Regions from separate parts of the Homo sapiens genome. Here regions 1, 3 and 4 are each reported to be linked to region 2. The links are microRNA targets in miRTarBase. Many come from high-throughput screens and were not tested one by one. Region 2 holds a microRNA gene; each other region holds the end of a gene's coding sequence.
Evidence for each region. Region 2 holds the annotated microRNA hsa-miR-505-3p (CGUCAACACUUGCUGGUUUCCU, at 2,000-2,021, opposite strand). A microRNA usually pairs through its seed, bases 2 to 8, with sites in the 3' UTR of a target mRNA and lowers its output. Matches are read on the target gene's strand: a 7mer-m8 pairs with bases 2 to 8, a 7mer-A1 pairs with bases 2 to 7 and ends in A, and an 8mer does both.

Region 1: the mRNA of TMEM37 is a reported target of hsa-miR-505-3p. The part of its 3' UTR that is shown has no 7-base or 8-base seed match.
Region 3: miRTarBase lists TCF7L2 as a target of hsa-miR-505-3p. Seed matches in the 3' UTR shown: 7mer-A1 at 2,383-2,389.
Region 4: miRTarBase lists GPLD1 as a target of hsa-miR-505-3p. The part of its 3' UTR that is shown has no 7-base or 8-base seed match.

What each region holds. Positions count from the first base shown.
Region 1 is chr2:119,436,843-119,444,338 of GRCh38, reverse strand. TMEM37 (transmembrane protein 37) reads right to left here. Exons shown (of 2, transcript NM_183240.3): 2 at 5,835-7,450. The coding sequence ends at 6,899. SCTR (secretin receptor) reads left to right here. Exons shown (of 13, transcript NM_002980.3): 12 at 2,740-2,781; 13 at 4,082-4,496. The coding sequence ends at 4,222. Among named protein-coding and RNA genes, the nearest start is that of TMEM37, 8.7 kb to the right of the region's middle.
Region 2 is chrX:139,922,161-139,929,656 of GRCh38, forward strand. MIR505 (microRNA 505) reads right to left here and starts at 2,071; the gene lies at 1,988-2,071. All of the region lies in intron 1 of ATP11C (ATPase phospholipid transporting 11C (ATP11C blood group)), which reads right to left.
Region 3 is chr10:113,165,044-113,172,539 of GRCh38, forward strand. TCF7L2 (transcription factor 7 like 2) reads left to right here. Exons shown (of 15, transcript NM_001367943.1): 15 at 512-2,635. The coding sequence ends at 929. Among named protein-coding and RNA genes, the nearest start is that of SNORA87, 120 kb to the left of the region's middle.
Region 4 is chr6:24,422,676-24,430,171 of GRCh38, forward strand. It overlaps GPLD1 (glycosylphosphatidylinositol specific phospholipase D1), which reads right to left. Exons shown (of 25, transcript NM_001503.4): 25 at 3,157-6,443. The coding sequence ends at 6,357. It overlaps MRS2 (magnesium transporter MRS2), which reads left to right. Exons shown (of 11, transcript NM_020662.4): 10 at 262-375; 11 at 909-3,515. The coding sequence ends at 1,019. Among named protein-coding and RNA genes, the nearest start is that of MRS2, 23 kb to the left of the region's middle.

The DNA of each region.
Region 1 (7,496 bases), not on the chromosome of region 2:
ATATATATTCATACGTATATATGTGTATATATTCATACGTATATATGTGTATATATTCATATGTATATATGTATATATTCATATGTATATGTGTATATATTCATATGTATATGTGTATATATTCATATGTATATATACATATGTGTATATATTCATATGTATATATACATATGTGTATATATATATAAGAATATGTATATATATTCTTATATATACACACACATGAGAAAATGTTTTTCATATACAAAAGTGAAGAGAATAGGACAATGAACCCCATTACCTATCCCCAGCCTCAGCGGTATCCACTCATGGCCTGTTTGTTTCATCTCCATCCCTACCTACTACCCCCATCTTTTTAAGTAAATTCAAAACATCATGTTATTTCATCTTCAAAGAGTTTAGTGTGCATTTCTAAAAGACGGGGCTTAAAGAAGAACACATACAACTGTAATAACACCATCACTGTCATATACTCTTTAAAAATGTATTTATGGCCGGGCGCGGGGGCTCACGCCTGTAATCCTAGCACTTCGGGAGGCCGAGGCAGGCGAATTGCCTGAGCTCAGGAGTTCGAGACCAGCCTGGGCAACATGATGAAAGCCTGTCTCTACTAAAATACAAAAAATTACCCAGGCATGGTGGTGTGTGCCTGTAGTCCCAGTTACTCGGGAGGCTGAGGCAAGAGAATTGCTTGAACCTGGGAGGCAGAGGTTGCAGTGAGCCGAGATCGCGCCACTGCACTCCAGCCTGGGTGACAGAGCGAGACTCCGTCTCCAAAAAAAAATATGTATTCACTCTTTCTAATTGTATAAATAATGCTTGCTTATTGTGAATAATTTGGGAAATAAGGAAAAGTTTTTCAAAAAAAGAAAAATAATAAGAAAAAAATCTAGAACGTCATAACCCAGAAATAACTTCTGTTAAAGTGTTGGTGTGTTTACTTCCGTCTCTTTTCTTTCCACAAAGATACACACACATAATTGGGATCATGATGTGTATGGTTTTGTATCTTGCTTGTTTTGTTTAATTCTCTATCATGCCCATCATGAGCATTTCTTCATGTCATTAAAATTCTTCAAAGTCTTCATCCTTAATGATCGCAGAATCACGGTGGAAATTAGTAAACTTGCTGGCTTGTGTGAGGCCTGCCCTATATACACTGGAGCACAGCTAACTCCCTCCCCTGAACAGTGAAAATGTGTCCCTGGACCCTAGCGCAGCGGAGGCCAGGCAACCCTAGCCCATGCAACGGGCAGCATCCTTGGCCTGCTCGTGGCTCTGGGCCAAGCACACAGAGCTCCAGGCATGCCTAAACCCCTCCGTGCCTCAGTTCCCTCGCTTGTGAGGTGAAGATCCTCCCACCTGCCTCCGAGAGCTTTGGCGAGGTTAAATGAAGCACCTGGGACCTACAATTACTCAGGCCTAGCTGTGCTCCGATCCAAGTCTGTTTCATTTCAAAGCCTGCCTTGAAGTGCCTTTTACTCCCTCTCTGACAGTAGTTCCCGGACCATGATGCCCGTTTTTTGGAACTGTGTGGGGATCTTTAAAAGCTGCTGATGCCCCCAGCTACTGGGATCTGGGGAGTGCAACCTGGATAAAAGGTCCCAGGTGATTCTAATGTGCAGCAATACTTGGAAACCGATGCCCTGAGTGTTTCTGCCCCTCAAATAGTCCCCAGTCTATGTAGCAGTCATTGATACCTGAAATTCTAAAGCAAACCCTTCCAGCTTCGCCACTAACTCTTTTTAAAATGCCAATATCCCTGAGAAGTTGTACATATTAAGCCCACCATCGATGAGCTGATTCATCACCCTTCGAGGTTCCTTTCCAATATCATAAGTAGCTACAGGCAGGCCTGGGTGGGACTAGGGAGGAGGAGTTGGGCCATCTGAGGTCAGGCCTCTGTGTGGGGAGGGCAGGCCCGTAAGGGAGAGAAGGGTGGCCTGAGGTGGGTCCCTGAGAAAGGAGAGGAGCAGGGTGAATGCGCCGCAGAGACACTGCTTCCTGCTGATCTGGAGGCCTCTTAGGCTCCAAGCAGGCGCCCCAGCCTGGAGTCCCTCCCCTGACAGAGCTCCACACCAGGATCCTGGGGGCACCATCAGGAAATCAGGAGCTCCAAATACCAGGGAGGGAGGGTCTTACAGGCACAGACCTTGCCACACCAGGGAACATAAAACTCTGAGCACGGAGGTGCACCCACCTGTCCATTAAGCAGGGAGCTCCAACCCTGCTCACCACTGGCTGGCCGGGACCTGTACATAGTTTGTTCTGCCTACACATTTGTTTTTCAATTTGAATTAGTTATCTACATTTAAACATATTCAGATTTCCAGTTTATCTTGAAATAAGACCACACAGGGCCCAGGGTCTCACCCTGGGCAGCCTGCACTCCTCCTGGCAGAGTGGGCGGACTTCAGGTGCCACCCATCCCTGTGGCTCCCAGGTGAGCTTCCTGATCCCGGCTGGCTGGGTTAGCAGCCCCCCTGACACCATATGTGTTCAAAAGGGAGCCTACCCTTGGCTGCAAGGAGTTCACAGTTTATGCTGGATGAGCCAGCACAGCCAGGGCCACCGTGGGCAGCCCACAAGAGGTAGCCTAATTCCCAGTGAGGCAAGAGAGGTGGGGAAATGAGCCTGTAGCTGGTGATTAAGAGACCTGGGGAGGGTGCAGCTGGCCAGCTGGTTCAGGCCGCATGCTGAGCACCTGTGCTAACCCTGCTACCTCTCTTCTTCTGGCAGGGACTGGTGGTGGCCGTCCTCTACTGCTTCCTCAATGGGGAGGTGAGTAGTCTTGGGTCACCCAGGTACCCAGGAGAGCTCCTAGCCATTGGTTTCCGGGTCAGAAGGAGCTACCTGGGAGGGGTGGTAGGAAGGGGGATGGAAAGGGTCAGAGGGAGTCCTGGGTCTGGTGGCAGGTGGCTTGGCCAGTTCTTTTAGGAGTCTGAATTTGCTTAATGGGAGCAAGGCTTGTTCAAACCATGGCTGGACCCTGTTCCTAGTTTCTCATTCCACAGAAATAAATTCTGTAGGTCTGGACTGGGGTCTGAGAAAGTGTTTTTTAACAAGCATTCCTGGTGCCGATGTTGATCTGTTCAGCAAATGCAGGAGGAAAGTTGGGCAGAACCCAGGTTCCTGACTGCCCTGCTGCTTGCTTAATGGGCGATCTCAGTCACTGCCCTGTTCTGGGCCTCAGTCTGCCCATATGTGAAACGGGTGACTCAGAACTGTCTGCAGCTCAATCCTTAGGGACCTCCAGATGAGCACTGACTCCTTGGGAGACTGCACACTCACTTTGAGGACTCGAGCCTCACATGGAGCATCTGGGTCAGGACCCCAGGCTCTGGGCATACAGAGCTATGTGGTTAACATGAGCTAAGGCTTTCTGTGACTACTGACCATCTATCTGGTTTGTTGCACTTGAATGGGAGTGATCTTTGATGTTTCCCAAAAATCAAATATCAAGCCTAGCTTCAAAGGTTCAGCTGCTGCAGCTGGGAATTGTGAAGGAAATTTACAAAGAGAAACTCCCTAGTTCCCAGATCAGTTCTGAGCTTGGGTGGCTTCCTGGGAATAAGTGGGGACCCATCTTAAATCACTTAAAATCACTGGGGACCCATCACTGAGTGGAGTCAGGCCTTGCCCTACCCACACCTTCAGACCACACCCTCCTCTAAGCTGGCCCTCTGCCCAGTAGCCCCTGTCAGTGCCCCAGACCTTCAGAGAACTCAGCCTCTGGCTTAATCCGGGATTCTTTTCCTCTCAGCCTGGGGGCCAGGGAGCTAGCTTTCCCCACCACTGCTCTTGTAATGTCAAGGGCACACACTTGTCCCAAGGTGCACAAGTCCTTTCTTTAAGACACGATGTAATGAGATTGCAGGTGCATGTGCCCAGGAGAGAGGGGACCCTCAGTAGCTACTGGACATTGGGGCTGGAAACAGTCAATCTGCGTGGCCTGCAGGCTAGGGGACAGGGCAGCTGGGCAGGAGTGGCAGGGCCTGCGTGGAGTCACTGGGGGAGTGAGCAGGGCTCCAGGCACAGAACTGTCCTCTCCTCCTGGGCTGATGGCTGGTCTCCCGGGCAGGTGCAGCTGGAGGTTCAGAAGAAGTGGCAGCAATGGCACCTCCGTGAGTTCCCACTGCACCCCGTGGCCTCCTTCAGCAACAGCACCAAGGCCAGCCACTTGGAGCAGAGCCAGGGCACCTGCAGGACCAGCATCATCTGAGAGGCTGGAGCAGGGTCACCCACGGACAGAGACCAAGAGAGGTCCTGCGAAGGCTGGGCACTGCTGTGGGACAGCCAGTCTTCCCAGCAGACACCCTGTGTCCTCCTTCAGCTGAAGATGCCCCTCCCCAGGCCTTGGACTCTTCCGAAGGGATGTGAGGCACTGTGGGGCAGGACAAGGGCCTGGGATTTGGTTCGTTTGCTCTTCTGGGAAGAGAAGTTCAGGGGTCCCAGAAAGGGACAGGGAAATAAATGGTGCCTGGGATGAGATTCAATCTATATTTGTCCATCCTTTTGCCTTGACACAAGGTGAGGGTGTACGCTCTTGCCTGCTCCCAATGCCTTCCCGCAGGAGGCGGGCTCCTCCCTGGTCCCCCAGCTCAGTTACTCAGGGACCAGATTAGAAGGCCCAGCCAACATGAAATGTTTGCCCTTGGCGGATGCTGTCTGTCTCCTACTGTAACTCACCTGGTTAGCAGCTCTCACCCAAACCTTCAGGACAACAGCTAAAATAATATGATAAAGTCACCACGGAGGCCAGGGAAGCCCCAGGGCCCCCAGTCCCTTTTACTATCCCCCCTTTTACTACCCCCAACAGGGTGTGAGGGGGACACCCCTATTTTTCCTGCTCTTCCACACAGATGTCCTCGGCCTGAGGCAGACACAGCAGGAAATGGGGCATGATCCCATTTCAGAGAAGACAGGTCCACCAAAGCCCTGTGACTTGCCCAAGCTACTAAGCAAAGAGGTGGCGGAAGTTCAGTCCAGGGCCTTTGACTTCAAATGCCCATGCTCCAAGGCTGTGTCTGTGCTCTCCCTGCTCCCAGGCAGGGAAGGACAGGGGCCATCTGCTGCCCCTCTAAGCTCCTGGGGACTTCAGTCTCACCCTCCACTCTCGTTCTTGGTTCCTTTGAATATCTGCACTCCCTGCCCCCATGTGAGGATGAAAAAGGACTCCATTTTTGAACGCTTCTGCAAAACCAAACCTACTAGTGCTCAGGGGGTAGCGTTCTGGAGGGAAGTAGAGAAACTCCCCTCCGTGTCAAGGAAAAGGCATCCTGCTGGTGGGTGGGTCAGCTCTACTCCCAGCTTTGGGTGACCCTGGACAAGTGCATCCCTCTCTGGGCCCTGACTCCCCACCTCCATACATCCCCTCCCCGTGAAGAAACCAGGGGGTTACACATCCCCTTTGCAACTTGTAGATTGCTCCAGGTTCCCATTTCCCAGGCTAAGATGCCGCCAGTGTGGTTGATGAGCTCTGTACTCTGTAAAACTGAGCAATTCATGGAAACCTTTCCAGGATGATCTCCATGGACTCTGGGCACCTTGGTGGTTCAACCTTAAAGCCCATGGCCTTATATCCTACAAAGCAGACAGCTTCATGACTCCATGCATCCTGGAATAAAAAATTTAAAACATCACAATAGACGTAGGTATAGGCACTCAGCCCAGACCAGGAAAGGAACCTGCAGCAGTGACAAGACCGGGGCAGAGACCAAAAACCCATGCAATTGCTGGGAGCCAGAATTCAACAGGTGAGGGAATGGGAAGGAGTCAGTGTAGAATGAAATGGGCTGAGGGCAATAACATCACCTACTTCTGGGCAGAAAAAGGACTAGAAAGGGAGCACTTTAATGAACAGAAGTACAGACGTGCTGGCAAGGATGGAAATCTCCACTGGTTCCTGGCCCCCTTCACCTCCATGCATCCCCAGCATGGGTGTTAATCATTACCCAAGCTCTCGCTGTTCCCCCTCACCCCCTGCAGAGTCCAGCAGGTCTAGATACGTGCTCTTTGAAATGTGTTCTGGGATTAAAAATGGTGCCCTGAGGCTGTCTAACCCTCACAAAAGACAGACACATGCACACACGGGCCTTGGGGAGGGCTGTGTATTAGCAGTCAGGTGGGCCCTCCTGGGAGAGCTTGCTCAAGAACTCTTCTCGGAAGGAAACCCACCTTAAGGTAGGGTTCTGATAGGCAGAGCTCCCAGAGGCACAGCCAGCTGCTAGAAGATGGGGTTATCCAGGGTTTGTAAGGTTTAAACAACGGGCAGGGAGGCAAACCGAGTCAAATGGTTTGGAAACCTACTGTGTGCAGGGCATTCTGAGGGAATCCTGAACTCTGCCTCTTTGGCATGACCAAAGCTGAAGCCAGGGACATACATACGAAGGCCCTTTGAGCTGGTGGAAGAAAGTCCTAGGCACTGATTGGACCCTTAGCTGGAAGAATGATCCATTCTTAACAACCCTGGGAGCCCCAGGGATTCTGCAGCCCCTATCCCAGCACGTGTCAATGAAACAGGCATGAACTATCCTTGGCTGTGCAGCTAGCTCAGGTACCAGTTACCCCTGTGCTTCCAACTGTATTCCAGTCCAGGGAAGAAAATTCAAGAAGGAGTTTTAAAATGTTTTTTTCTTCCTCTAAAATCAACATCTGGCTAAGCCTGTGCAGTTGGTGGCACTGAGGCACCCTCCTGGCCTCTGGCCCTGCAGACCAGGTGCAGAGGCCCCCGGGCCATTTCTGGCTGACCACCCACAAGTTATCGGCAAACAGGCAGCCGTTTCAAGGCCCTTGTCCAACCCAGCCCCACCAGAGGCCACATGCTGGAAAAGTCCCATTTTGACCATATTTTCTTGTGGAATCTGATGTCCCTGGAGGGGGCCTAAAATTTCCACGGTCATTCCCAGGGATGGGTGATGCTGTTGATGTGAAGGCCGCTGATGGCGTTCAGGAAGAGGAGGAAGGAGGCAGTGAATTCGCACCAAAACATTAGGGTGAAGCCGATGAGTGTGACTTGGTTCCTGAGGAGGATCACAAAACCCAGGAGCCCGCCGGAGGAGAGGACGAAAGACACCAGGAGGAGGATGGAACCCATGACCCACTTGCACTGTGAGTGTTTGTCCTCGCACAACTGGGACACCATGAGGAACTCCAGGCCAAAAATGGCGGCCACCACGGCCAAGGCGCCCACGCTGCGTACCAGGCCCATGCCCACGGCCAGCCCGGGCACATGGGCCTGGCCCAGGTCTCTGAAGCAGATCGTCTGGTTGGTGGTGGTGCAGAAGTGCCAGAGCCCGAAGAGGCGGTCCTCAGCCAGGAGCCAGTGCCCATCACAAATGGAGACCGAGGACAGGACCACAGCCAGGGCCACACACGTGATGATGAGGGTCCGGATGAAGGATTCAAAGAAGGACCGGCGGGGCTGCCTTTGGCCCAAAGGCCTCTGGGCCTGGAAAAAACCGTAGGAAGCACCCTGTCAGCCACAGCCCTGCCAC
Region 2 (7,496 bases):
TGCCACTGCACTCCAGCCTGGGCAACAGAGCAAGACTGTCTCTCTCTCTCTCTCCTTCTCTAAATATATATATATATATATATATATATATATATATATATATATATATGCATTTTTTTTAAATGACATAAATTTACTGGAGTCATAGGTTTCAGAAAAGAGCATCTATGTATGGGAAGATTCCTATAGCTATTGTTGTGGAGACCTAAAGCCACCTGTTTTTAGCATCTCCTTTTTTAAAATCAAAATTACTACAGCAAACGTAAGGCATTGAAGATCGAGGTTTTGGTGTTTCTGCTGTGTCATGGACAGGATGTTTGTGTTCCCCTAAAATTCTTATGTGGAAATCCTAACTTCCAAGGTGACAGTACTAGGAGGTGAGGCATCTGACAGGTGATCAGGCCATGAAGGTGGAGCCCTCATAAATGGGATTAGTGCCCTAGGGAGCTCATTTCACTCTTTTTCTGCCATGTGAAGATACAATAAGTCACCAGTCTGCGACGTGAAGCCCCCTCACCAGTACCCAACCATGCTGGCATCCTGATCTTGGACTTCCAAGTTCCAGGATTGTGAGAAATAAATTTCTGTTGTGCATAAGCCACTGAATCTATGTTATACTTTTTATTTGTTTTGTTTTGTTTTTTTGAGGCAGAGTCTCGCTCTATTACTCAGGCTGGAGTGCAGTGGTGCCATCTCTGCTCACTGCAACCTCCACCTCCCTGGCTCAAGCAGTTCTCCAGCCTCAGCCTCCCGAGTAGCTGGGATTACAGGTGCTCTCCATCACACCTGGCTAATTTTTGTTTTTAGTAGAGATGGGGTTTCACCATGTTGGCCAGCCTGGTTTTGAACTCCTGACCTCAAATGATCCACCTGCCTCAGCCTCCCAAAGTGCTGGGATTACAGGCGTGAGCCACTGAGCCCCACCTGTTATACTTTTTTTTATAACAGCTCAAACTCATTTGGGGTTGGCATGTATGTTCTCTAAATTGACTGGTTCCCATGCTTTAAGTACAACAATGACCCTGCACCATTGCTCAGGTAATTGCCTCCTCCTGTAATGAGACTGCCCATCCCTAAAATCTCAGAACCTTCAGCCCTTTGGGTCCCCAGAGGCCCAGTTGACAGGCTACTTCCTCCATAAAGCTCTCCCCAAGAAATGAAGCCAGAGAGCCAGTGCCTCCTTCTGAATGCCTACTGCACTTACTGTGTATGTCCTTCAAAAGGATGGCTCTGGTGACCTACTGGCCTTGTGTGGAGGATGGTCCTGTGTGCTGGTCTTCTCTCTCTTCTACCAAACTGCAGGCTACTGGTGAGCAGGGCTGTACCTTACACACCTCTACAGCACCAAATAGGGGATGAGTGTTCCAAGAAAGCTGTGATTCACATGAATGTTTTCAGAAAAGAAGCCAGAATAAATTGTACACTATACTATAGATCCCTTAATCCTTATTACTGCAAAATACATTAATTGTGAAGCTTAAAGAACGTCCCCACTGCTTACACAACAGGTGTAGCTTACATAATCTGCTCTACCCAGCTGTTACTTACTTGTGGCAATTCCCTCCTGGCTTCTACTCCCTGTCGATATGTGGGATTACTGCACCATCCAGTATGATTTCCTTATTCCTTGCTCCAATCATAACAAATTTGTTAATTTTCCTTTATAACAGTAAAAATGGCTGAAACTCCAAATAACCAGAGATATCCCTAGGGTTTTCCATGACTATAAAACTCAAAAGACAATCCAGGATATAAACCAATATTTGTAAATATTGCCATAAAATTCATTGCTCAGAATTTTTTTTTTCCTATATAGTCTTCTTTGACAAAATACTGCAGTATTCCCACCATTTGGAAATTGTGTTACCCAAAAGGTATAGAATGGGATGAAGTGATGATGCAAATGAGTATTAGGACTATGAGCAAATGAATGGGAGCAGTAACAAAAGTCCAAAAGTCAGGAAAAATGAAAATCCACGAACTTGGCGATGCTCCAGAGAGGAAACCAGCAAGTGTTGACGCTAAACTGGCAGAAACATCAATACTTCCTGGCTCCCCCACTGGGTGCATCAATTTACCACCGGCAGGCTGCTCTTCTGCTTCAAGTGACAAACAGTAAGTGCTTTCAATGACAGTATGAAAAGGAATGACCCATAATCTAGAAGCATGGCTATGGGCAGCAAAGAAAAGATGTGATTGCTGGGAGTCTGTCTCAGCTGTACTGCTGATTAGCTTAATGATCTTGGACAAGTCATTTCCTTTCACTGAAAAAATACCAGTGTTTCACAATATTTGCGTGATGGAAAGAGTTAACATAGCAGGCCTGACACTGCTATTCTTAGTAAGGCCTGTTTGCAAGGTTGGTCCTTGGCTGGTGTCTGGGGACTTGGATTTTGGGAGGGTTTCCATCACCCTGATAAGAGTGGCTCACTCTGCTTAAGCTGTGTAAACAATAGGGTTTACACTGAATACCTGCTTTCCTCCTTGGGGTCTGGAATTTTGCTGTGTACCAGGTGGAGGGTGCCTGTGTGACCAGCTCCCACTAAAAACCCTGGGTACTGAATCTCTAATAAGCTTCCCTAGTAGACATTTCACACAAGTTGTCAAAACTCATTTGCTAGAGGAATTAAGCATGACCTGTGTGATTTCAGTGAAAGAGGACTGGAAGCTTGCACATGGTTTCCTCCAGACTTGGCCCCAATGAGCCTTTTCCCGTTACTGACTTTGCTCTGTATCCTTTTGCTATAATAAATCACATCCGCAAGCGTTTCTATGTACTGAGTTCTGCCAGTGAATCAACAAACCTAGGCCGGTTTTGAGGACCTCTGTCACAATTGGTATAGTGTTGAATAGTCTACCAAACGTTTTTTTCAACAGTCTTGTGAAATAGGTATTATTATTCCCATTCTATCGATGAAGAAACTGAAGTTCAAAAAGGTGAACAGAGAGTGTGCCCAGAAAATAAATATTTCCGTGTTTACTATATTATATATTGCTGTTCTCAAATTTTAGTGAACCTAAGAACCACTTGGAATGCTTGTTAAAAACAGTTTCTTGGAGTCTGTCACCCAAGACTTGGATTCAGTAAGTTCAAGGCCCAGGAATCTGTATTTATAGTAAGCATACAGGATTATTATTATTTGAGATGGAGTTTTGCTCTTGTTGCCCAGGCTGGAGTGCAATGGCACGATCTCGGCTCAGTGCAACCTCTGCCTCCCAGGTTCAAGTGATTCTCCCGCCTCAGCCTCTCAAGTAGCTGGGATTACAGGCCTGTGCTACCACTCCTGGCTAATTTTGTAGCCCAGTCTGAAATGCATAAGCTTCTTGGTGGCTGCTTCCTAAACTGATCATTCTTCATCTGTTATTACTGACTCAGACTGTGTTACCAATTCAGCTCAAAACAATTAAACAAGTATTAATTGAACATCTACTGTTTACCTGATGCTGTGCTAACTGCAAGATCATTTTCAAGAACACTTCTGATTTTTCCAAGAATACCTTGGTAAAGAGAAAGGGACTAGGAAAACATTGCCACATTAATACTTTATGACAACATATAATAGAGACGTCTAAAAAACAAATGATGATATCTGCTTGAACAGCAATATCATCAACATCACCAATCCTCCCATATTCCATTAAATACATATGGCACAAGAAATCAATGATTTCTACTTCACAAATACAGGTTAACCTTCTAAATCTGGAAATCCACGGTCCATTATCATTTATAAATCACATCTTCTATTATCAAGAAGTCAGCCGACCCAGTAATCCGTCCATACACTGCAATAATTGAGGGGCTGTCTGCCAATGTGTGGGCATAGGGCATCCTGTGCCCATATCTGCAGTGCTGAGCACTCATTCATCATTAAGCTGCAGCAGTGTTAACATATGCTGCAGTTGTGCCAGTATGTTTTGTTTTACGATCACCGCTAATCTACCCTTATACCAGGCCAAGAAGGTAAATGTTAAGTGAAAGGAAATAAACTCGAGAGCCAGCACCTAATTCATTTGTGGAAGCCCAGAACCTCCCTCCACCTAACCAGAAAAACTCCCCCAGTCTCGAGGGTTCCAGATGTAAAAGGTTCATCTGTATAAAGCACTACAGATGTACAGGAAATTCCACCACCTTGAAGAAAAAAATAGTATTTTTTTTTTATATCCCATGCATTCACCCTCTTTGAGAGAACTGAATAACCATGTTAGACAAGCAATGAGCCTTGATTTTTTCCATCACTCAACAAACCAGTATTTGATTTCACTCAGTGGGCTAGTTCTTTGCACATCATGCAGACACAGCAAGGTTAGTTATGGTTCTTTCAGGGGCCACTGGCCATCCTTTACCTCCTAGAACCCACTGCTCAGCAGGTGGTAAACTGGCAGCTTTTTGAAAAAACAAGCTCTTTTGAACAGTTGCATCAATATAAAAATGGCCAGCTTCACCTGCCCAAATCTCAATTCAGCTAAAAGTTAATTAGGAACACTGGAAACTACCTGGTATATAGGCACTCAATATTACTCACTAAATGGCTGAATTATTAGCAATAAGCATAAACAAAAGGAACAAACAGTAAACACTTACAGAAAGTATTCAGGACACATTCAGAGTTTTATGTTGCTTAGTCACTAAAAGGTAGATCAGGAAAAAAGAAGACAAAACCTGCTTTCACTTGTGTAAAGATTTATTTCAAGTTACAGTGGTTCATTTCTAAATAAGTTTCCCACCTTGCGTGGGGTCAGCCTAGCATCTATTTGCAAAAGAGCAGTTTGCCATGCGTAGGTCAGATGAAAGGAGACAAATGCAAGAAACTCCTTTTTAACTGACATCCAAACAACCAGAAAATAACTGATATTGTACAATCTATTTTTAGTAGAAAGAAAAATGACAAGTATGTAATAGTAACTTATTCACAAAGATCAAATTTCATGGTATGTCACAAATGTATTCAATGCAATGCAGTTACCATGCCCTCTATATCTATAGTTGTGTATGTAATGATAATTACAGCTCAGGAAGACAGGAACCTTGTCTGTCTTGCTCATCTACGACCCCAGGATTGACTGCAGTGCCCAGCACATAGTAGGTGCTCAGTGAATATTTGCTGAATGATAATTGCTCTGCAAAACCATACAATGCCTTAATCATCTAAGAAAGAGGCCAGGCATGCTGGCTCTTGCCTGTAATTCCAGCACTTTGGGAGGCCGAGGTAGGGAAATCGCCTGAGGTCAAGAGCTCGAGACTAGCCTGGCCAACATGGTGAAACCCCGTTTCTACTAAAAAATACAAAAAATTAGCCAGGCGTGGTGGCAGGCGCCTGTAATCCCAGCTACTAGGGGGGCTGAGGCAGGAGAATCGCTTGAACTCGTGAGGCGGAGGTTGCAGTGAGCCAAGATCGTGCCATTGCACTCCAGCCTGGATGACAAGAGTAAGACTCTGTCTCAAAAAAAATAACAATAAAAATAAAAATAAATAAAAGAAGGGGATATTTTGTGGCCGGGCTCATGCAGATGGCAGATCCTGGGACTTCTCAGCCTCTGTAACTGCATGATCCAATTCCCATAATAAATCTCAAAAAAAAGGAAAAAAAAAAAGATTATACTATGGTCAGTATAGCTTTCGGCATTAGATGTATTTATTCTAATTCTTAGAATACTAGTAATGTATACGGTATACCCCAACTAACAAGAACTCATTCTTTGCTCATTCTGCATAAGAGCGGGTTTACAATAATCACTATCTGTAAGTAAAGGTTATTATTTATGGGATACATACAAAAGTTGTTCTTTCAAAAAATATTTTACTGAACACCTACTAGGGACCAGGCACTGTGCTAGGAGCTAAGAACACACTGTGAACTGTCCCTGTCTAGGACAGCCTTTCTCAATTAGGGTTCCTTCACTCCAGCTGCGCAGGAAAATGTTAATTTATTACTAACAATGCATGTCCTAGGGCATCAGTGCCAATTCTCTCCATGTTGAGAAAGACTAGGGAGCCATACAAGTTAAAAGGCAATTATAACACAATATGATTTAAAAAAAAAAAGTTGCTTTTAAGTATGGTCAAGTTCAACTGCTAAACCTAGACCTCTATGAACAGCCATGTGGGAGCCGAGATACACAGACCATTTGTAATAGTTGTGCAAATGTAAAAATATTGCAATACATACATACAGATATATTTCTAAACACAGTAAAATAAAATCAATATTTTCCCGCTCGTCAATGTCAGGCCAGGATTATTAGTAAAGTGAAACAGAAAAAAAAAAATGTTTAATTACTCTGATAGTTTAAAGGGGAAACTAAAAACCTTCTTGCTCCTGGGGAAAAAACAAAGCAATTACCTGAACTATTTTCTTAATTGCCTCCATATATTGCTTCATTAGACTAGCCTTGCCTTGGACTCAAAGCAATAAATTAGCTACCTATTTCATTAATTCTTATTTTGTATTTTTTAGTCTTATTTTAAATTTCCATTCTTCCTTATGCAGTCTAATTTCTTCCTAGTCCTGGGCATCTTCTGTGTGATATTATGATTATATGCTACATGCTTTATGAAACCAAAGCAGTTTAAGGGCTTCTAGAATCAGAGATTTAAATGTACTCCAGTATTTCACACTCACAATTAAGCTTTCATGTATCAAAGGTCTAGAAATGCATACCTGTTAACTATCACTGACAAGCTAAACTGACAGCATCCTCTTGACCAAGCCCCCAACCTACTTTATCAAGAAATCTCTTATTTTGAATCTTTAGTATAAAATAATTTCATAAGCCAAAAAGAGGGGGGAATTGTTTTTAGACTTTCAATAAATCTTTAAACCCAAGAGAACACGTTACTATAGTCACTAGGAATTGCATTAAGAATAAAACAAGACAGGATAACATAAAAGTCCATGACCCTTAAATCTCAACTAGTCCAGACTTCTGATTAAATATGCCTTTGAAGAAAATAAATTGTACAGACAGAGTTATTATTACTTATTTACTGTATTTATGGAGATGTTGACTTGAGAACAGGTGGTGCTTTTATTGCACTCAGAGACATCCAACTCTTAAATCCTTTAGGACACCCTCTACATGCCTCAACCCTAAAATGCTATACACCAAATCCACCAATTTCTTTCCACCTCAAAACTGTCAAAAGGAAAGTCATAATTCATCAGAAAGAAAGGAACACAGTTATTAATGGCAAAGAAGTCAAGACCATGTATTTAAAAAAATACAATGAATCACTATTTTCTTTTAGCTTGAAATTGGAAAACTCGAAAAATAAATGGCATTTCAAAAATGATTCAGCAAACACAACTGAGCTATAGAAGATGATGCTTGTAAGAATCCTAAGGGATTCTTCCACGTCAGGTTTAAAATATAAAGGAAGCACTTCTCTAATATGTAGTCTAGTTTTCAATAACCAACAACTACAATCAACACCACTGTAATTTATTTCACAATCAAAACCAATATCAGACACGTACAGGTACACTAAAAAAACA
Region 3 (7,496 bases), not on the chromosome of region 2:
TAAACACACACACACTCACACTCACACACTCACACACACACATCACTGGGGGATGGGGGTGGTAGTGGTGGGAATGGGAGTGAAGGGCCGAGGAAACTTGATGGGAAAGTGAGGGACTGTCTAAGCCAAAAGAGCTTTTCAGTTCTTCTCAATTTGGACAAAGCCACTTTTTGGCAAATAGATGCCACCATCTGCAGGTGGCCGCCTCCATGCTGCTCTCGTATATAATTTGGGCATGGTGGGGCATGGGTGTTTAGTAGGGGTTGGGGGAAGCAAGTAGAGAGTTCAGACTCTTAAATAAGTTGTTTGCCAGAGCAGGCTTAGATCTGGGCACTGTGAAGTAAGCGACCCACCCTGGGGGGGCGCCACTGTAATTGTCCTCGGACCACTGGGCGTGCCACCTCTGTGGGACATCCCTTAGGTGACCTCAGCTTGGGTGTGAGCATTAGGTAACTCTCTCCCTTGGCATCTGTGCCCTCTATTCACAGATAACTCTCTCCCCTGTTTCTAGGAGAAAAAAAAAGTGCGTTCGCTACATACAAGGTGAAGGCAGCTGCCTCAGCCCACCCTCTTCAGATGGAAGCTTACTAGATTCGCCTCCCCCCTCCCCGAACCTGCTAGGCTCCCCTCCCCGAGACGCCAAGTCACAGACTGAGCAGACCCAGCCTCTGTCGCTGTCCCTGAAGCCCGACCCCCTGGCCCACCTGTCCATGATGCCTCCGCCACCCGCCCTCCTGCTCGCTGAGGCCACCCACAAGGCCTCCGCCCTCTGTCCCAACGGGGCCCTGGACCTGCCCCCAGCCGCTTTGCAGCCTGCCGCCCCCTCCTCATCAATTGCACAGCCGTCGACTTCTTCCTTACATTCCCACAGCTCCCTGGCCGGGACCCAGCCCCAGCCGCTGTCGCTCGTCACCAAGTCTTTAGAATAGCTTTAGCGTCGTGAACCCCGCTGCTTTGTTTATGGTTTTGTTTCACTTTTCTTAATTTGCCCCCCACCCCCACCTTGAAAGGTTTTGTTTTGTACTCTCTTAATTTTGTGCCATGTGGCTACATTAGTTGATGTTTATCGAGTTCATTGGTCAATATTTGACCCATTCTTATTTCAATTTCTCCTTTTAAATATGTAGATGAGAGAAGAACCTCATGATTCTACCAAAATTTTTATCAACAGCTGTTTAAAGTCTTTGTAGCGTTTAAAAAATATATATATATACATAACTGTTATGTAGTTCGGATAGCTTAGTTTTAAAAGACTGATTAAAAAACAAAAAGAAAAAAAAAGCAATTTTGAAGCAGCCCTCCAGAAGGAGTTGGTTCTGTATTATTTGTATTAAATACGAGCTTGCGAACCAATCATTTTACATCTGGTTTTTAAACCGTAAGGGCACCATGAATGCAGTGCCGTTACTTTTTTTTTTTTTTTCTGTGTGAAACAACTCTTATTGTGATGTTACTTGTTATTGTTTAAATGTACAGAAACAAAGGGTAAAAATGTGTTAATATACCTTGTTCCATGGTGTTGTTCTTTTGGGGGGAGGGGACGCTACTCAACACTTAATAGAATCACAACGCTGTTGGGCCAGTAGTATTTATTGCTTTAGAGATTGCTTGTCGTACCTGTATGTCGTCCCTTTTTAAATATGTTTTCCTTTTTCTTGAAACTGTATAAAGTTTTTTTCCCCCTTAGCATAAGCATCTTATATATAACAACTCATTTGTACAAGGTTTTTAAGTTTATATATAAAATGTGTATATATATTTTTGTTTCCCCTTTTTGACTTTTTTTTTTCTGTATGAAACCCAGATGTCACCAAATGGACATTAATAGTTGCATTAAGGATCAGTAGCATTAACAAAAGTTGCTTTAAAAGCCATTATGTAAAACAAGACTTGAAAATGAGTGAGGGAATTTTAGCGACACTGTCTGAGCAGCAGTGGGAACCATCTTCGTTTCCCCTTTGAACTCCCAGTGGGATGCCCTACCCTGCGCCCTTAGGACCCGGACTGACCGTGTACAAAACTTTACGTGCCAAAATTCTCAGTGAATTTAGCTTTCTCCCTCTTTTTGATGCTGTAATTTTTGTTCATCATGTTTTGCTGTGATGTTACATAGGTAGATTTGTATGTAGTTTTAATGTCACCTATAACAAAATGTGTTTGGTAGCAGATTGTCCAGAAAGCATTTTAAATGAAGAGGTATAAACCCTTAAGGGCCAAAATTCTGTATATTAGATTACTCTTAAACGAAAAACCAGCTGCCGCTTTTATGTACACATATTACATACGAGTAGGCAGCAGACTTTAAAAATAAAAAAAACCTAGGCATGTTGATGTTGCAAAATGCTGTATAAAGCTGAAACCTGTTCATTCAGTGCCATTGTAGTTGACATGAAGCGATTGTAAAACTGTCTCCGATTTTTCTCTGGTTTATTAAAATGCTAACTATAACATTTTTTGTGAATACTTTGAATGTTTCCTAACAGTTGTGATGTTACTGTTCCGTTTTATGCTCTTATTCCAAGTTCATTTTTAATGGTTTGGAAGCCATTTTTGTAATGAATAAATGTTCATGCTGTACAGTATCTGTAGCATGCCGTTCTGGATTAATAAAAGCAACTTAGTATGTGCAGATAAAGGCTGGTCACTTGTTTCTGTGATTTGGATTTTTATCTCTAGGGAAACTGGACCTACCGTAATCAAGAAAAACATATTCCCACGTTGGAACTTGACCATACAGTTAGTGTGTAGGTGATGACTTAGATACCAGAACGTGGTCTTGGACTCTTTTGAGGGGTTGATCCCCTCCCCTCCATCCTCGTGGCCCATTTGGTGTATCTGGTTTGCATAATGTGTCATTTGCAATGGAGATGATCAGTATCAAAGGGGATCCCTGGTGTGTGTCTTCTGTAGTATTTCACCGTGCCATTCCCAGTAGTTTGTTGCTGAAAGCAAAGCACAGTTACAGAGCAAATGTCACTTTTTTGGGGGCTATAAACCAGTTTCTCTGAAATATCCTACTCATCCTCTCACAGTAGCAAGCAGAAAGAATTTAATTCTGGTGAATGAGACTTAGTCCACCAAGAGTGCACTTAAGAAACCACATCCTTAGCAGTTAAGGATCATGGGTGTGAAAGCATCCTAACCTCCAAGAGTTGCATCCTGGGAGAGATGCAAGGGTATCAAACTGCCCTTTCTCTAGCAGTGAGCGATTATTGAGTAAGCAGCTTTTTAGAAAATTGGATTAAGGTGATGCACTGAAAGGTGTGTGTGGAAGGGCCTTGCTGTATGTGGGATCCAAGTGTTCTGGCTGTACCCTGGTAAGAGCCCAAGTTCATCACCATCACTGAGCAGGGGCCATGATACAGATCTTCCCTAAGGTTTCCCCTGGATTTCATTTCTCTTGCTGACTAGATGGATGGATGGACACATTGTTCCATTTATCTAGGACATTTATACCTTCAAAGGATGACGATTTCAATGGGCATGGAACTGTTCGTGTTGCCGTTGTGGTTTCTTAAGGTGACCACAGTATCGCATCAAGGACTTAAGAGCCCCTCGGAAACTGCTTTGCTCAAGCAAGTTTTTCTTCTGTAAAATCTCGGCATTTTGTTTTTGCTTTGCTTTGTATTCCCAGGGAGGAGTGTTTCTGGTTGTCCTTCCTCATTTTATTTTGCACACTGGGCCGAGTGACCTTTGAAAACACAAATAAGAACAGTATCTGTTATTCGTGGCAGTGTGCCAAGCTGTTTATGTGCATTTTCTCATTTAATCCTAACACTACCACCTAAGGCAGACATTCTTCTCCTCCGCCACCCTCTGCTTCATTTTCTGAAAATGGATTTAGAAACTGAGGGTTTTAGGTGCCTTGTCTAAGGCCACACAGGAGGTGGTGGGGCTGGGATTTAAATTCAGATCTGACTCCGGGCCCCTGCTCTTAAATAAAGACAGCCCTTCCCCTCCAAAACAGAAGTGAGGGAACAGTCCTTTCAGAGGATTTCCTTGATTCCCCCACCTCCTCTGCCTCACACACTCGCTCACTCCCTTTCCTCTCTGGCTGTACTACAGAGTTAAGCTTACCTAAAAGCATTTTTGCTCTTCCTGCCTGGAAAACAACCCCTCATGCTTCAGGTCTTGACGAAGACGTCCCTTTGTTGGGGGAATTGGTCCGGAGCCCCTGAGGGTTGCCTGTCTCCCTCCTGTGTGGTCTTTCAGGCCTCTGTCTTCTAGTCTCCTTTGAAAGTGGCTGTCGTCTGCTTAGGTCATTCCAGCCTCACCGTGTTTCTCAACCTCAGCACTCGTGACATTTTGGGCCAGATAATTGTTAGTTGTGGGGGTCTGACCTCTGCACTGTAGGATGTTATCAACACCCCTGGCCTCCACCCACTAGATAACCTGTCAGCGCTTGCCCCACCGCCAGTCATGACAGCCAGAAACGTCTCCAGACATCGCCAGATGTCCCCTGGGGGGCAAAATCACCCTCAGTTGAAAACCATTTCTCTAGAGAGCCCTCCAGGATGACAGGATTGTGGCTTTCGTGCCACTGCTGTATGCTAGGGTCTTGGTTTAGTGCGGGGCACACAGTGGGGTGCTTGATATACATTTTTTGAAGGAAAGAAGGAATGAGGTTGGCCAACTCAACACTCGTATTGTAGGAAGCAGCAAAATGGAAACTTTCCATGAGCCTTCCAAATTTTGTGTTCTCACAACTTTCAGGGTGGTGGTGACCTTAATCCTTTCGGCCATGCTGGGATGTAACCCACTGCCCTTGTTACAAAGGCCAGAAAAAGGGCAGGGGGGTCAGTCCCTCTGCTGTCAGCCAGCCCGAGTGCCGATCTCTATAAAAATCAAAATGGGGGTCACCAAGTCACACGCTTGCCTGCCTTACAACACCTGGTTGGTACTTGGAGGATCCTTCCACCCAAGATGGAACTTCCTTTCCCCCAGGCCTGTGTTCTCAGCAGCCCAAGCTCTAGTCTTCCAAATGCCCAGCCAAGTCTTTGCCCTTCGGCACTTCCTCTCTCTGTCTGATTTCTTCTTACCTCAAGAGTTTCTTTTCAAACTCAGCATCTTCTAATTTCATCTGTAAGAGTGGATCTGCGGGTTTTTTTGTTACTAAGAGACCCTGAAACAACGTCTGGGAAACGATAACTCTCACTTTCCCAGCCACATCACTTTCGGCCTCTTACGGGGCTTAGCCAAAGATGTTTGCATATTAGTAGGGCGTATGTTTCCTGTGGCTGCCGTAATGAATCGCCACAAATGTGGTGGTTTAAAACAACAGAAATTTGCTCTTGCACAGCCTTGCAAACCAGAAGTCTGAAATCAAAGTGGTGGCAGGGCCGAGCTTCCTCCAAGGCTCTGGAGGCTAATCTGTTCCGTGTCTGTTTCAGCTTCCAGTGGCTGCCTGTAATCCTTGGCACTCCGTGGATTGAAGCCACATCACTCCAATCTCTGCTTCCATCTTCACATCGCTTTCTCCTCTTGTCTGTCCCCAGACACCTTCTGCCTCTCTCTTACAAGGATACATGTTTTTGTATTTTGGGCCTACCTAGATACTCCTGGATAAATATCCCTTCTCTTCAGATCTTTCACTTAATCACATATTTTGCTATATAAAGCAATACATGTTTTAACAGGATTTGCATATGGACATATATTTTGGGGGGGCCACCATTCAGCCCACTACAGAATCATTCTCCAACTGCTGAGTCTCAGCACAGAACCCTTCAGAATGGGCAGTTGTTCGTTCCACTATTGGTGGTGGTCTTGGATAGGCCCATGTGGAAAGCAATTTTTACAGTACATGGCATTTCATTTCAGATATTAAAAGGTTCGTTGTTTTTTTTTTTTCCTGATGATGTGGATTCACATAGGGTCAGAGAGCCTTGGACCTGGATGCAGGATTTCGAGAAAGTAAGTAGCTTGGAGCAGTGGAGTGAATCTGAGCTTGGAGGATCCCACATCTGACTCTCTCGCCGTGTGTCCTTGGGTAATTCCTTCATCTCTCTGAGTCTTTGTTTCTTCACCTAACAAGTGATGATACTGGTGTTCATCTGGACAGATTTGTATGAGGGCTAAGATGCAAAGTTGCTAGACTAGTAGGTCATAGTGTTTATTATTAATATAAAAGCCAAAGGCCAGTCTTCTATTTGTTTTCATTATTTCTTTTTTTTTTTTTTTTTTTTTTTGAGACGGAGTCTCATTCTGTCACCCAGGCTGGAGAGTGCATGGAGTGCAGTGGCACAATCTTGGCTCACTGTAATCTTCTCCTTCCAAGTTCAAATGATTCTCCTGCCTCAGCCTCCTGAGTAGCTAGGACTACAGGCGTGTGCTACCACGCCCGGCCAATTTTTGTATTTTTAGTAGAGACGGGGTTTCACCACGTTGGCCGGGCTGGTCTTGAACTCCTGACCTCAGGTGATCTGCCCACCTCGGCCTCCCAAAGTGCTGGGATTATTGTTTTCATTATTTCTCTTTGGGATTCTGCTGGTTAGTCCAGCTCTTCACACCCAAGTAAGAGAATCACAAAGATCTAGATGCAGAAGACACATCTACATGACCCAGGGACAGACATTGTGACTCATCCACACTCATTCATTTTACCTGCAACTTAATGGCCTTAGGAAAATGACTTCTAGTCTCTGGGGAGCCACAGCCCTGTCTGGGTTGCTTTTTGTGATATAGAAATGCGGCATAGAAACGTGTTTTCAATTAAAGCCCTTTGCAAAGAAATTGAGGAGTAGCCTAAAAGCCTCTCGTGAACGGTGCCTGAGGCAAATGTTGCAAACCAGAGCTGGGAATCACGAATGAACAGGGCCACAGATTGGGTTTTCGAAAGGATTCCTATCTGAGGTTGGCTTCTTTGTCTCCCATTCCATATCTGGTTCCGCACTCCCAGGCACCTGGCCATCGGAGAGGCCTGCCGTGAACTCTGGCCTGTGTCCGATGGGCAACACTGGTGAGTTCTGGCTCTGAAGCTGGGTTTTTAAAAGCTAGTACCTCGTGGATACACTTGATGGGAGATGTAAGCACTTTCATTCATTCAGTGACTATTTCTTGGGCACCTGCTTACACCAGGGACTGTTCTAGGAACTGGCATGTAAGTCTGGGTGAAGCCAGCTTGGTCTCCAGTTTTCCTGGGTTTATTTCTGCACCATCTTATAGGCTGGAGTTTTTAAGGAAAGGGAACACCAACATTCCTGAGGCCTGGACAAGCCGCTCACCTAGAAAGACATTTTATGTAAGGATAATAACAATAGAAATTGCTAAAAACTCGACTTGCATTTCTCTTTTAATACTCATGGGGATGGAAATTGCTTTTATGTTCATTTTACAGATGTAGAAAGTGACACTAAGAGGAGTTAAGTTGCTTCCCCAAAAACACATATCTGGGAAGCAAAGAGCTTAAGATTTGAACCCAGGCAGCCTGACTTAGGAGCCTGCATAGCTAAATACCATGTTATATTTCTTATTATAAAGATGGCTCATCGGGGTAA
Region 4 (7,496 bases), not on the chromosome of region 2:
AAAGGCTGCAAAGAAACACAAAGTAAAAGCAGTACATTTGGCATATAGATGATTTTAAAATATTTAAAACCTTTTAAATCATGTTCTTCTCCTGCTTTATTCTGTGGGTGCTATCAAGGCCCTTGTTTTTCTTAGTTCCTTTCTACAGGAAAGAGCTGTACAAATAACATAAGGCTTTCAAACTCTGGGGCAGTAACAATTCAAGGAATCTTCTAAGGAACCTGGCGTTTTGCGATGGAAATGAACTGTGTTCTCTTTTAGGACCATAGAATTTTTTGGCTGATTACAGGAATTATGTTCATGGGAAGTGGCCTCATCTGGAGGCGCCTGCTTTCATTCCTTGGACGACAGCTAGAAGCTCCATTGCCTCCTATGGTATGAAGGATATGGTTCACGGCGGTATTGTGGAAGGGTTATGATCATGGGCCCTAAAGTCAGAGCGCCTGGGATTAAGTTGTCACAGGCACTATGGCCCTTGCGAGTTGCTTTCTCAAACTTCCTTCAGTTTCCCTATCTGTCAGTTAAGTCGGTATTACCTGCTTCATAGGGTTATGGGAAGAATTAAACAATATGTGTAAAGCACTTACTAGCACACTGCCTAACACAATAAGTTAGAAATATAATTTGTGTAGAACTCTGACAACATACATTTAAACAGATGTTAGTAATTCTGGTATAAGGTTTGTCATAACCAAATGGAAATGTAGGAAACATTTATAACGTTCTTAAAAGATAGAAAATTCACCTCCATTTTCTTTGTACTTGAAGATGGCACCACTGGAATAAATACTTAAGACACTGATACTGCTTATAGTCCTTTCTTCACTGAGTAGTTACATAATACATCATTTTACTAGTGGCTTTTCTTTTAAAAAAGATACTAAAATTAATACTTCTGCTTTATTTAGATGGCTTCTTTACCTAAAAAGACTCTTCTGGCAGATAGAAGCATGGAATTGAAAAATAGCCTCAGACTGGATGGACTTGGATCAGGAAGGAGCATCCTAACAAACCGTTAGGAACAGCCCCGTGGATACTGAAGTTTTTTTTATGGTAGTTACAGGAAACTTCTGATACTCTTTTTATTATTTTCTTGTATAGAGTCAGACACTTGAAAAAAACTAATGTTTGAAGACAAAAATATTTTGGCAGTCACAATACCAGAACTGGATTGCATTTCCAGAATTCTGAGTTAAAGAAACAAAGTATTTGCTTTGTAAAAGGCCAAAATTCTATTTCCTACAAACTTTAAATGCTGTTTTTATAGATGTGATATGAGGCAACACAAGCACAGACAGTTGCATAGATTTTAATTTATACATATCAAGAAAAGTGCAATTTCATGCTGAATGAAGCGTAGGAACTTGACAAGCCCATAGGTAGCTATAGTTCTTTGTCAGTATAGGGAATTATGTTCATGTGAATTTCCTGATTCTCAGGTGACTAAAAAGCTAGCATTCTATGTATTAACCTTACAACAGACTCTGTAAGTTTGAGCTTTAAAAACCAAACTTTGACATAACCTTATTTCTTGTATTTGCCCCCTTTTTTTTATAAAAGGTGAATAAAAAGAAATAATTTAATATCACCATTGTATGGATTCCTAATCAAGATTTCACGTTCTCAGCCCCTGAGACTAGTTTTCTTTGCTCTCTGTAATTAGAGCCTTTGGAAGCAAAGTTGAAAGGAAGTATTTCCATTCTGTTACTGTTTTGTAGCACTTTGTCCATTTATTGATTTTTAAAGTAGATATTTAGATACCACCCCTGCCCTGCCCCAAAAAGAAAAATGTTTATTGTCCTGCTAATCTATATGCCTACACCTCAGAAGCTGACAGATGAGCTTCCTAAAACATGAGGATGAATAAATGTTAGAACTGTGATATCTTCTCATTTCCACAGAGATTTGGGTTTAAAACAAATGGCTAATATTTGTAAGCCTGAAAGCTGCCATCCTCTTTAACATCCTACCTACCTTTTAAAATATTTTCTGGAGGTTAAGTACAGTTAGGCACTAGAACATTTGTTAAGCCTCCCAAAGTAGTGTGCATGGAAGATTCTAGAGTGTCCAGCTCTTGCACTACAAATGTAATAATAACAGAATAAATACACTTACCCTGATGATATTGAGGGTACATGATTAGCCTAATGTGATGTCATATGAGGAAGTTTAGGAGTCCATTTTTCAGGTGGTTTGGTGATAGGAATAAAAATGTTACTCCCGTCGCTGATTTGGAAGAAAACCGATGAAGTACAAGTAAGGTTTCCCCACTCCTGTGTGTGGTCATGGGAAGCCATTAGAGGGAAGCTGCAGAACAGAATGGAACAGGACAGGCTGGGCTAGACTCGAGCACGCAGTGGCCCCTGTGCCACCACACTGTGGGTCAGGAACACGCGTCATGGTGTTCTTGTCGGAATGTGAACATACAGCACCCTCTAGCATTACGAATCTCTTAGGATTTTTAAGATTGTATTTGATAATACTTATATTTCACAGGGCACACTTTTGGCACACCTCAGAGCACACTGCTGCTATTTTGGGTCGTATCACTGTAAAATACATAATAAGTACTACTTAACTGTGACATGAAGAATTGGAATCCCAGAGGGCAACATTTGATTTGACTAAGATCAGGCATAAGATAGAATTTTTGTCATTTTTCCTTGCAGTTTTATTGACTTAGTTTATGAGCTTGGATAAAATAATTTTTTGATGAATCATGTCAATAAAAGGAAAAATAATGTAACTACCTCATAAGTCTGATAAAAGGAAGTTGCTAGTGTTTTATAGAATTTCTGAAGGTGGTTAAATCAAGTATGATTTCAAAATATCAACTAGTTCCACTTTTGTGATTGCAGGATGCTTCTTATACTAAAGTTCTCATAAATAATAAATCAGCTTATGCCAAAAATATATGAAGTTCCTTGGTTTTAAATTTTGAACTAAAATGGACTGAGCACATTAATTACTGTTTGAAAGTAGGTACCAAACACTGGGTTATGTGAGTGAGTAAGCAATCATATCGCCTGTCAAACACATCAAGTGTCGAACACGTCAAGGTGTGATACTGTCTTTGGAAGGCTCCTAAACAAATGTGAGCACAATTATTAACACCTTATTCTTCATGAACACAGACTGTTAAGCAGCACTAACCAATTTTATATTAAAAAGCTATTTATTTTGGTGAGTTATTCCAAGAGTTGTATACAGCTTTATTTTTTGGAATTGCAATATTAAAGTTGCACGTTGGATTTAACTCTCATGACTTTAGTAATACCTACAGAGGTGAGCTAATGGATGGTACATGGAGTAGGGACTGCAGAGACCCTAGTTTTGTCCCCACTCCATCTTCAAATAATTTTGGTCTCTTAGGTCTGTGATACAAAGGCATAAAACAATTCCTATCTTGAAGCCTTGAGAAAAGCTGTTACATATACGCAGATAGTAGCAAGACAGAAAATGCAAATATGTAAATGTCTTCTGATATCTTGAAATAAAGATAAATTTCAGTTAAACTTGTATAAGTTCAGATTTCTGTTAATGAGAAATTACAACCCTACAAGGTAAGGTCTTTACATTTTAGTTATTAAGCAGAATCAATGCTTAAAACTATAGTTAATACTTAGTGGAAAGAAAATTTAATCCATGTATCAGGATAATATATTAGACTGTCATGCATTAATTTTTTCCTGTATGCCAGGTTTTTTACATACGTGCCATATCAGTTGACCTTTTACAGTAGGAGTATAATTTACATTGTTTTTGACATTGGGGTTAGTATGGTTAAATGTCCTATAAACTTGAAGCTTGCTTCCATTTTTGTGGGTCTTAACCTCCACCTGGTGCTTGCTATTGGGTGTATTCAGGCATTGAGAAAAATATAAATCGTGAGGTAAATAATGGTCATGTTTAAACAGAGGCCTTATCATTTAGTGAAGCATAAAAACTGACACTATATAAATGCATCCGTCTAATGAAAAGACCCAGTACTGAGAAAAACATCCCTTTACTCAAGTGTCAGATGTCAGAGTGCTCTAACTGCTCAACTCATAAGTGAATACAACTAAGTAATTTCTGGTCCCCTAAAAATAACCATCCTTTTAATTAAAAGTAATTCTTCAGATAGGTTGGGCTACCAATAATTGTCCCTAAACAAAACCAAATGGCGCTTCCTTGTGCTTTTGCTGTGCCATAGGTTACTATGCAGCTAGCACATGTACCTCTTCCAGAAAAATGAGGTCATCCTGGGAGTGACCCAGAGATGCTCTCTAGGGATGTACCTCTTGATGTTCTTGTTAACTTTCCACTCTTCAGCTGGATTCCTCTTCCTGTCCCCTTTTCACCAGTCTCTACTCTTGAGAGAAGCTGAGAAGAGAAGGGCTCTTCTCATTTGTTATTTTCTCCTGCTTTTAGTATCATCTCACCCGTGGCAGAAGAAAGAGGTTCTTCCCAATTTAACACAAAATAAACTAGTTACTGTTTACAGATAATGCCCGCTAATGTTTACTGAAACTGAAACCCTATGATACATTCCATTCCCTTAAGTGTGCCACGCTGCAGGACTGACAAATGAAATCCATCCTACGAAAAACAGCCCAGGAACAAGCGAGGCCAAGGCCTGCTTTCCTCTCCGGCCCTTACAGTAGCGTGTGGCTCAGGCCACATCTTTTCCCTCTAGTTCTTTTGGCACAAGTTGTAACCTAATGCGACAAAGGTCCCTCATGAGATGGCTTAAAACTAGCAGTGTCGCTAGGCTCTTTAGGTGTTAGAACAGCCAACTCTACAAAAGTATTGGAGGGCACAGAAGGGTGATAGTCTTGGTTTTTATATTTGTCCTTCACTATATAAACATTGAAAAGGTATTAATCCTCATTAAGAAAGGATTATCGGCCAGGTCCTGTGGCTCACACATGTAATCCCAGCACTTTGGGAGGTCAAGGTGGGTGGATCACCTGAGATCAGGAGTTCGAGACCAGCCTGGCCAACATGGTGAAACCCTGTCTCTACTAAAAATACAAAAATTAGCCGGGCGTAGTATTGTGCACCTGTAGTCCCAGCTGCCTGGGAGGCTGAGACAGGAGAATCACTTGAACCTGGGAGGCGGAGGTTGCAGTGAGCTGAGATCACATCACTGCACTCCAGCCTGGGCAACAGAGCAAGACTCCGTCTCAAAAAAAAAAAAAAAAAAAAAGGACTATCATCCTTAGCAAACTAACACACGACCAGGAACAGAAAACCAAATACCAAGTATAGCATGTTCTCACAAGTGGGTGCTAAGTTAAAAGAACTTATGAACACAAAACAACACACACTGGGGTCTACTTGAGTGGGGAAGGTGGGAGGAACAGAAAAGATAAAACCTTCACATGTACCACTGAACCTAAAATAAAAGTTAAAAAGGACTAAGTCACAAGTGATTTGGAATGTGAGGTTATCCCTCACCCCCATGCTTTACTCTGTACTATTTTTCCTCCCTCAGTTTCTTTTTTTTTTTTTTTTCTGTATACTATGCTTTCTATTATACTTTGATTGGCATGGGCCAATCTGTTATTTTTAAGTTCAACTTTTTTTTAACTTTTAAGTTCAGGGGTACATGCGCAGGAAGTGCTGGTTTGTTACATACATAAAGGTGTGTCATGGGGGTTTGTTACACAGATTATTTCATCACCCTAAGTATCCATTAGTTATTTTTCCTGATCTCTCCCTCCTCCCACCTTCCGCCCTCTCATAGGCCCCAGTGTGTGTTGTTTCCCTCTATGTGTCCACGTGTTCTCATTTAGCTCCCACTTACAAGTGAGAATATGGAGTGTTTGGTTTTCTGTTCCTGCAATAGTTTATGAAGGATAATGGCCTCCAGCTCCATCCATGTCCCTGCAAAGGGCATGATCTTGTTCTTTCTTTATGGCTGAACAATTCTTTTTTTAAAAAAGGATGTTTTTAGGAGGAATTGTGTACAGAGACTGTTCTAACAGATAACCACAGAGGGACCTTTCCAGCCATTGGAAAGACATTCAAGAGGAAGAGGAAATAGGTTGTACAGCAGGTCTGACTACAGGCAATAAGTTGGGAAAGAAGAAAGGTTTAGATGCAAAGGGAGCGAGGAAGTAAACTGTGGAAGGAGACATGAGTAAGCAGAATGTCTGCTATTTCACATATTTCTGGTGCAGTCATATATTTACTGTATCAGATTTCCAGAGGGTGTGGCTGTTAGTGTGTCTCTCTACTCCCAGGAGCCCCATGTCTATCAGGATCTACCACCGCTCCACTGGATGTGCCACTTTGTCCATCAAAATGCTCACCATGGATGTGATTCAGCATGAGAGAGGTGGGCAGAGTGGGGAAATGCAGTGAAATCTTCAATCTGAGCCAAGGCTATAGACGTGAAGTGCCCCGGAGAGTCGGGCTCCCAAAGAACTCCTTCCAGCAGCAATGACGACTTGGTTCTGTAAGGGACACAAGACAGAATTCATGGCTCATTCATAACATCTATTGAGTTCCTATGGTAGTCCAGGCATCATGCTATGCTCTAGAAATATAAAGATGAATAAGACACTGGCCAGATCCCCTGGCTTGAACTCAAATGCCACTTTCCCTTTGTTTACAGACCGCTTTCTCACATCTATAAGTTCTGAAAACCGCAGCTAAGGATGCTCACCCCAATCCCTATTCTGGCACATAAATCATAAAGGAGAAGTAGGGCAGTGCATGCTTAGTTCTGGTACAATGTGGAAAACATATCTTGAATAGTAAGGACTTCCCCTAGAAGCTGGCTTTGTCAATGTGTTTAGCGTACCTCCCACCTACCCTGCTGCTTAAAACATTTTAGGACCCATCTTTCAGAATTGCCTTCAAAACCTGCTGCAAGTTTTTAAAACATTTTCTTCTTTTTTGAAACAGAGTCTTGCCCTGTCACCCAGGCTGGAGTGCAGTGATGTGATCTCAGCTCACTGCAACTTCTGCTTCCTAGTTTCAAGTGATTCTCATGTCTCAGCCTCCCGAGTAGCGGAGATTACAGGCATGTGCCACCACATCTGGCTAATTTTTGTATTTTTAGTAGAGACGAGCTCTCACCATGTTGGCCAGGCTGGTCTCGAACTCCCGACCTCAAGTGATCCACCCGCCTCGGCTTCCCAAAGTGCTGAAATTACAGATGTGAGCCACCATGCCTGGTCTTTAAATATTTTCAGTGGTGGCAAATCTTCATACTCCGAGGTCGGATTTGATTTGTGGAAACTGACAAAAGTTATTCTGAACCAAAGCTGGCACATGAGGTACGGGTGATCAAACTGGCTGACAGTATTTTGGTCAGAGCAGGATATGACAGTTTCTTATTTAATTTTGAAAACTACTGATGAAATCTAGAAATAATAATAATAGCTAAAATTTGTGGAGGTTGTATCATGGGTCAGACACTATGCTTAGCCCTGTGCTTATCTTATCCCTTAATACCCAGTGTCAATTAATAGGGAAAATCTACACTTAAGAAAACAGCATCA